Linked DNA regions of Homo sapiens: region 2 is linked to region 1. Evidence: fine-mapped expression QTL. A gene starts in region 1. The other region holds a variant in brackets. All regions are shown on one strand. Distances are from middle to middle. Region 1 holds the start of CFAP97 (cilia and flagella associated protein 97). Region 2 holds the start of SLC25A4 (solute carrier family 25 member 4).

Evidence for each region.
Region 2: its variant is fine-mapped to the expression of CFAP97 in whole blood (TOPMed, PIP 0.94).

Annotation. Positions count from the first base shown.
Region 1 is chr4:185,201,981-185,206,368 of GRCh38, reverse strand. CFAP97 (cilia and flagella associated protein 97) reads left to right here and starts at 2,369. Exons shown (of 5, transcript NM_020827.3): 1 at 2,369-2,471. It also overlaps a transcript of SNX25 not described here. RefSeq lists enhancers at 1,217-1,306, 1,417-1,526 and silencers at 2,286-2,457, 2,067-2,836.
Region 2 is chr4:185,140,992-185,145,379 of GRCh38, reverse strand. SLC25A4 (solute carrier family 25 member 4) reads right to left here and starts at 2,114. Exons shown (of 4, transcript NM_001151.4): 1 at 1,897-2,114; 2 at 130-616. The coding sequence starts at 2,007. RefSeq lists a silencer at 2,043-2,342. The variant C/T (reference allele first, on the strand shown) is at 2,032.

The sequences.
Region 1 (4,388 bases):
TCCTGCAGACCATCTTAATGTTGTTATGTGGACCAGAGGCGCACAAGTCATGGGCTGAATAATATTCCATTTTATGTATCTACTACATTCTGCTTCATCTGTCTGTTGATAAACAAACACTTGAGTTTTTTCCGCCTTTTGGCTATTCTGCTATGAACATGGGTGCATAAGTATCTGTTTGAGACCCTGCTTTCACTTCCTTTTAGTGTATGTCCAGAAGGGAAATTGCTGGGTCATATAATTCTATGTTCAAGTTTTTCAGAACATGCCATACTATTTTCCACAGTGGCTGAGTATGCTACATTCTCACAAGCAATGCATAAGGGTTTCGATCTTTCCACATTCTTGCCAATCCTTATTTTCTATTTTTTTGACTAAAGCCATCGGTATCTCATTGTGTTTTTGACTTGCATTTCCCTAATTAGTGGTGTTGAGTATCTTTTCATGTGTTTATTGGCCATTGGTATATTTTCTTTGGAGAAATATCTACTCAAGTCCTTTGTAAGATAAACTTTTGACCACAGTTTGTTTATTTATTTAGAGACAGGGGCTTGCTCTGTCGCCCAGGCTGGAGTACAATGGCGTGATCTCAGCTTACTGCAACATTTCCCTCCTGGGTTCAAGCGATTCTTCTGCGTCAGCCTCCTGAGTAGCTGGGATTACAGATGTGCACCACCACACCTGGCTAATTTTTGTATTTTTAGTAGAGACGGAGTTTCACCATGTTGGCCAGGCTGGTCTGGAACTCCTGACCTCAGGTGATCCGCCCACCTCAGCCTCTCAAAGTGCGGAATTACAAACGTGAGCCACCGCGCCGGGCCAACCACAGTTTAACAACTATCCCTGGAAAGTGGTGCCAACACAGTTTTATTAAGCACTTTAAAAGAAAGTGAAATTCTTGCTTTTTTTTTTTTTGAGACACAGTCTTACTCTGTTGCCTAGGTTGGAGTGCAGTGGCACGATCTCGGCTCGCTGCAACCTCCACCTCCGGAGTTCAAGCGATTCTCCTGTCTCAGCCTTCCGAGTAGCTGGGACTACAGGCTCACGTCACCACGCCCAGCTAATTTTTGTATTTTTAGTAGAGACAGTGTTTCACCATATTAGTCAGGCTGGTCTTGAACTCCTCTCAGGGGGCCCCACCCGCCTCGGCCTCCCGAAGTGCTGGGATTACAGGGGTGAGCCACTGCGCCCAGCCAATGCTGTCTTTTAGGCAACAAAAAGAGAATTGATTATACTTTTGGTAATTAAGACCAACAAGTACAAAATGCATTGTGAAGGACGAAAATAGACAATCCTTACTGGAACTCCCCGGGACAGGCAGGGTAAGACCCATATTTCCTACCCTTCTTTGCACTTAGATGTGAACAATATTTATTAACTACTGGATTGTATACCATTGCTGCTATAACAAATTACTACAAATTCAGTAGTTAAAACAACACAGGTGTATTGTCTTACAGTGCTTAAGGTATTAAGTCTAAAATCAAAATTTGCAGGCTCTAGTTCCTTCCTGAGGTTTCAGGAGAGAATCCGTTTCCTCCTTTTGCAGCTTCTACCTGCACTCCTTGGCTCATTGCCTCTGACATCACTCCAACCTCTAGCTTCTGTGCTCACAGCTCCCACTACTGACTTTGAACTTCTTGTCTCCATCTTATAAGGACCTTTGTGATTCCATGGGGTTCACTGGATAATCCTGGTTAATCTTCCCATTTTGATCCTTAATCACATCAGCTAAATCCTGTCTGCCACATAAGGTGACATATTCACGTGTTGTGGGGACTAGGAGGTGCACATTTTTGGGGTGCCATCATCCTACCATACCTGAGAGTTCAACGAGAAGTTATTGTATTCAATATATTCTGCAGAGATCATTTTTACCTTAGATTGTTTTAACTACCCACCTCGTTTACCACTCGGCAAAGGTCTTTCCATTCTGAAACCAGCCTCTGGTCCACAGAACTAACTAGTGGTATGAACTGAAATTTGCTGATAGAAAATATCACAAACACACAGCCGCCGTTCTTTTTTATTCTTGGTTTGGTAGAGAATTACAAGATAATCAAGGCAGCTTTCCCTATTAACGCACGAGAACAACGGGGCCTACCCGCGCCGCCCTAGGCAGCCGGGAGCAGCAGTAACGCCTCTAGGGCGCCATGGCAACCACGCGGGCTGGACCGCCTTCTTCCGCGGCTCTTCTAGTGTGCGCGTCCCTGGCCCGGCCTCCACTCCGCCCGCGTGGAGCCCCGGCCTGGCCGCCTGCCCGCCGCGCTCTGTGACGCCCGCCGCGAGGGCCGCACGAGGCCCGGCGTGCGCCCCCGCCTCTCCCGAAGCGCCGGGCCCCACGCCGCCCCTCCTTTCCCTTTCCGCTCTCTCCGCCTCCGGAAGCGCGGGCGCGCGGCGCCGGGAGCCCGTTCAGGGCCGCGGGAGTGCGCCAGCGCCGCGCGTGGGGCTGTGGTGGCCGCGGCTCTCAGGTGAGGGGCGCGCGAGCGGCTCCTGGCTCCCTGCTCGCGGGGCGCCCGCCACGCTCCTTTCCGTTCGCATCCGTCTCCCCGCTCCGGAGCCCAGGCGGCGGCGAGTACTCGGGGTGGGTTTAACGAAGCCTGCGCGGACGGTGGGAGACCGCGCCCCCACGACAGGGGCGCCCGCGGCGGCGGGTCGCGGCGCCGTTCCACCCCGGTCCCCTGTGAGAATGGCGGGTCCCGCCCTCTCGCGCGTTCCGGGTGGCTTTGAGGGTCAGGATCAGCCCTAAATTGAGATTGGGCCGCGACCACATGCCGGGCCCTGACGACTTCTTCCTACTTGTAGGGACTCGAACCTAACCCACGAGGCCCGAGGGGTTATCTGCCTTCCGGGGACGGTAGGGGATGTAGACAAGAGCCTAGCGTTCCTGGAAACAGGTGTTTAATTTGGGCCGGGATTTTCATGTACCCAATTGGGCATCTTGTTGGAGGCCTACTGTGCTGTTTAACTACAGAAATGTATTGTCACAGTAACAAGATGACAGTTTAAAAAGTGCCCGGTGCTTTTCTGTGTATTTTCCTGATGTTTGGTGAAAGCATTAGTCTTGTTATTGCTGGTCTGTAGGACCTGGCAAGTGGGGCGTGCCCAGTGACTCTCAGGCAGCTTTGATAAAAACTTACCTGTCTCTTTTTTTTATTTTTATTTTTTGAGACAGGGTCTCGCTCTGTGGCCCAGGGTGGAGTGCAGTGGCACGATCATGTCTCACTGCAGCCTCCCAACTCCTGGGCTCAAGCGATCCTCCTGTCTTGGCCTCCCAAAGTCCGGGGATTACAGGCGTGAGCCATGCCCCTCCTGGCAAAACTCTGTCTTGATTGAGCACCAAAGGGTTGTTATGGTCTGATGAACTATCCTTTAATTTTATCCTTTCCTAGTCTGTTGTAAAGAGAATCTTAACTACTTTATTAAGTCATTTTTCTTATTCTCTGGTAAATTGAATCACTTACCTCGTAGTAAATGTTATCAAAAGAATTGCTCAGTGGATGGGATTGTTGGGTAAATTTTCCTGTAAATTAAGTCACATGAGTGTCGAAATCTTTACAGTAACTCTGTTGGATATTATTAACTAAAATTTAAACCTGAAAAGTCTCACAGGCACCGGACTATGCACCAGGGCGCATGAACTGTGACCACTTAGGGAGGCAGCTGGCTTCCAGCTCTTGGGGACTGCATGACCTTATCATGGAAATGCAGATAAAGGCATAGTTGTGGTTTGTGCTTCCGGAGGGGTGGGGGAAGATGGCAGGAAACTATCAAGGAAACTGGGTTGAAACCCGGTGATTTTTTTTGTTTGTTTGTTTTTTGAGATAGGATCTCACTCTGTTGCCTAGGCTGGAGTGCAGTGGCCTGATCTCGGCTCACTGCAGCCTCAGCTCCCAGGTTCCAGCGATTCTCCCACCTCAGCCTCCGGAGTAGCTGGGACTACAGGCGAGAGCTACAACGCCCGGCTAATTTTTGTATTTTTTGTAGAGGTGGGGTTTGGCCATGTTGGCCAGGCTGGTCTCAAGCTCCTGGGCTCAAGTGGTCTGCCTGCCTGGGCCTCCCAAAGTTACAGGCATGAGACTGTAACATGAGCCACCGCACATGAGCCTCCATGCCCAGCCACACACATACAAGGCGATTTTTCTACCCTCGTGGGTAGCAAAGAGCATGGCTCAATCTTAAATCTCCTAACTCCAAACTCCTTTGTGGGATAAACATTCTTTGAATGACTAAATTCATCAGGTTCTCCTTTGGGTACTGGGGTTATAAAGATGAGGAAGTGACGAGGAGCTCCCAGTCTGGCAAGGAGACAAGTGTAGGGGATGGGGGGAAAAACAAAAATCCTTTTTCCTTTAGCTGGGTCTGCAGCTGGGGCTGTAAGGCAGATT
Region 2 (4,388 bases), 61 kb after region 1:
TCAGAAGCCTCAATTATCCCAGAGACTAGAAAAAACAAGATCAATATATATCAGGTCCTTTGTGAGTTATAGATCCCATAGGATCCTCTTTCCACACCACCCTCCTTCTCCCCGATGCCCCTCTCTCACCCTTGGCAGTATCATAGACTCCGAAGTAGGCAGCTCTATAGATAATGATGCCTTGGACAGAGACGTTGAAACCCTGGTAGAGCCCCCTCAGGCCATCAGACTTGAAGATCTTGATGATACAGTCGCCCAGACCATGGAACTCACGCTGGGCGGCGCCCTTGCCCACATCAGCAGCCAACCTGGTCCTAGCAAAGTCCAGCGGGTAGACAAAGCAAAGGGAGGTGGCCCCAGCGGCCCCACCGGACGCCAGGTTACCAGCAAAGTAGCGCCAGAACTGCTTATGCCGATCCACACCCCCTAAGAAGAGCTGCTTGTACTTGTCCTTGAAGGCGAAGTTGAGAGCTTGGGTGGGGAAGTAACGGATCACGTTGGCCAGGTTACCCCTCCAGAAGGAGAGGAAGCCCTGCTCCTTAGGGATTCTCACCACACAATCAATGATCCCTTTGTACTGCTTCTCAGCACTGATCTGTTTGCTGGCATGCTGGACCTGGTGGAGGGGAGGGTGGGTGACAGAGGACAGGCAGGGTAGAGAGAAGGGAAGAGGACAGGAGAAAAAAAAAGGTTTGCACTTCCTAGATTTTTTTTTTGAAGAAAAAAAGGATGAGGAAATCAAATGGATACTGAGGACGTGTAAATGGATACTGTTATCCATGTTAGTTACTGGATAACAAGCCAAAATAATCCAATGTTGCTTCAATTATTAGGGTATTTGAGGGAAAAGGTATTGCCCCAAATAAACTGAAAAGGTGATTGAATTATATAAAGCTATAGCCATTTATTTATTTCACTTTCCCTAGGTTTGAGAACTGTATGAGGGGCTTACTGGGGGACAGAAATGAGTAACACTCCCTGCTTCAAAGGGCTTTGGATTTAATAGACATGATGGCCAAAAAATGACAATTTCTCAGTGTCACTCTGATCACCCTGGAGATGAGGATCTCTACTAGATGCTCTAATAGAGGAAGGAGAATAAATCCACTAAACATTAGGCCTCCAAAGTTTTCAAGCAGATAATCCAAGTAATCAATTATTAAGGGTTTGCTGCCGTTGTGAGCAATTTGTGGGGGTTTTGTTGTTAGTAATTCTGACTCCCAAATTGGGCTCTTCCTCATTGAGGGGCCCTGACCTTTTGGGCAGGTGGAGGAAAACACGAGAGGATGATAAACCATTCAGCGACCAGGTAGGGGAGGAAAAGATTTGGAGACAGGATGATCTGAGTTTATTCCGAAAATTGTTTCTTAATATTTCAAAACCTCAGCTTCATCTGTAAAATGGAGAAGAATAACTCTCTCACAGAGGTTACATAAAGATGAAGGCGTCAGCCTACATACAGCATTGTGCATGAGATACGATAAGGGAATTCTTGGGTGATGATTATTTTGATGTTTTTATTGTAAAGGTGCGTGCGCATAAGACGGTGCCAAAAATACTGGCAATCACTAGGTGCCTCCGGGCCTGAGTGCACGCCCGTGCTGTCACGGGCGCAGGATCTGGCACACGTAAACCGGCTCCGGGTGGGTTTCCATATATAGACACCCGAACGCCGGGCGCCACCCGACACCAGGAATCTGCGACTGACGCTGGACCTGTCTCTACGCAGAGGGCACCTTCTTCCCCCGCGGGCGGGCGGGCGGGCGGGCGGGCGCCCGGGCCTGTGGCCTGGCGCAGATTTTCCGCGGCGCCCCGCGCCCTGCAGCTCGCGCCGCATCGCGCGCCCCGCCCGGCCCGCCGCGCCCGCGCCCGCCTCTTGCACCGCGCGGTCCTCACCTGCAGCAGCAGTTTGACCCTCTCGATGGGGGCGACCGCGGTCTTGGAGACGGCAGCGGCGACGCCCCCGGCCAGGAAGTCCTTTAGGAAGCTCCAAGCGTGATCACCCATGGTGACAGCTCGACGCTCTCAGCC[C/T]GCAGGCAGCCCGTTCGTGCTCTCGCCCACGCCCGGCCTGGCACCGCCGCGCAGTCCCCGACCCTGCGCGACGCTAGGGGGCCGCCGCCTGGCCCGCAGCTCCCCCTTATATCCCCGCCGGGCTCTCGCGAGAGGAGGCGGGTCGCGGCCGGCGCTCGCGCCGCGCATTGGCTGGGCAGGTGCGGGGCGCCCCCTCCTCCCAGCTGCAGAGGGCATCGGGGGCGAAGGCGCTTCCGGGAGCGAGGCTGGGCCGGGGGCTGTCCCTGCAACTTGGGACGTTTAAAGGGCACATTCATGTTATCTGTCCCGCCGAGCCCAGGGAACACCGTGTCACCGCGGCATGTGGGCCGCGTATTTATAGCACAGGCAGCCTTAGGCCGGGGCGAAGCCGGGGCAGACACCGGGCCGCTGCCGCCGGTGGAGAGTTCTTGACCCTCCGGCCTGCACGGGCCGCGCTCAGGCCCAGGGATTTCGAGCTGTTTCCTCCTTCTTGCATCTAAAGGCGCCCCCCACCAGAGCTCACTGCCTGGATATGGGCCTCTTTAGAGCCGTGCGCTCCCGAGAATAAATGGCAGTCCTCTCAAATAGATACTAAGGTCACCTGATGCTGTGATTGCCTCATAGAATCTGACAACCTGCTGCCTCTCATTTCTTTTCATTCAATCGTTCGTTCAGTCATTCATTCTGCTATTACATATTGATGTGTCTGGCACTCAGTGCCCACAGGAAAGACCTGGTGCAGGGGGCCACTAGGTGAATTCATACTTGTTTCTGCAAAACTCTGTGACTCTAAAACACAGGACACTTCTTTTGTAAGCCCCTAAAGGGTTCAATGTACCACTCTGCTCTCAGCGGAATTTCAGCACATATTAGGGCAGAATGTTCTGTCTGTCAGCCGGTGCCTTCTTGAGGGTCAGTGCTGTCAGCCTTCCGGAGATCCAGTCCTTGGCTGTATTTGCCTCTTTTTAATGACAGCTGGGGTTGAGGAAATGCTATTTAATCCCAGGAAATTAATTGCAATTAATTTCTTAAAATATATAAATCTGAGCTTTAATTTTCCTTAGCTTGTTTTTTAGGCAGTTCATGTAACCATACAGGTTTTCAAATACAACTGTTCCTTCCCCTAGAATGACTGCAATTCGTTTTTAACTTTAAACTCTTCACTCAATTATCTTCCCATGTTTGCTAATTTTCATTTGTACCTTTAACAAAGTTTATTCATTGTTTTATAAACTTTTTTTTTTTAATATTTGCTGACATCATGTTAGAGGTTTACGGAGCTGCAGCTGCGTGTCACCCTGGGCGTGGAGACTTTGGTATAGCAGAAGTCACTAAGGTTCCAGGGCCACAGAGGGCATGCGTTTATCTAAGAGTGGGGCAGGCTAGAGTTCCGAAATCCAGGTAAGCAGAATGAAAGCTAGAAACTAGTGGAAAGCTGCCAGAGGTCAGAGCAGACAGAAGTCAAGAACTCGGAAGAGACAAACAGATAAACCATGTATGTGTTCATTCAACAGACTCTTGCTGAGCATGTACTGTGTACCAAGAACTAGGTGTAGCCCTGTGGATTGAATATAAGTAGACGTGGCCCATCTCCAAAGACCTTACAGTTCAGTGTATTCGTCACTTGCTCCACTTTATCAAAACTTCACTTACTGATTTCCATGGATCAGCATAATCCACACAGTAAACCTTTTTAATTATAATAGTGTACTGTATCCCATCCTGTAATATAGAGCACTTGCTTTTATACCTCCATTTTCCTTTTAATTGTGCATTAGAATTGTGTCTTATTTTTATGATGAAAAATAGGCCGGGTGTGGTGGCTCATACCTTTGGGAGGCTGAGGCTGGCAGATTACCTAGGTCAGGAGTTCGAGACCAGCCTGGCCAACATGGCAAAACCCCATCTCTACTAAAAATACAAAAATTAGCCTGGCGTGATGGCTCATGCCTGGAATCCCAGCAGCTCAGGAGGCTCAGGCACGAGACCCCCGAGAGGCAGAGGTCATGGTGATCTGAGATCACTCCACTGCACTTCAGCCTGGGCAACAGAGAAAGACTCTGACTCAAAAAAAAAAAAAGAAAGAAAGAAAGAAAGAAAGGAAGGAAGGAAGGAAGGAAGGAAGGAAGGAAGGAAAACTAATACTGCTACATTGAAACTTACACAAACTTCATTTTCTCCTCTAAGTTTTTTCTTCTCATATATTTCCCAAATGGAATGGATAGATTTAAGATTTTTAAAGTTTTGTAGCTTTTGCTACATATTGACAAATTGCTCTTCAGAAATACCAACCCACCAGTTATATAGATGGGCTTTCTCTCACACTCTTCTCCAACACTGGCTTTAAAAAAATAGAG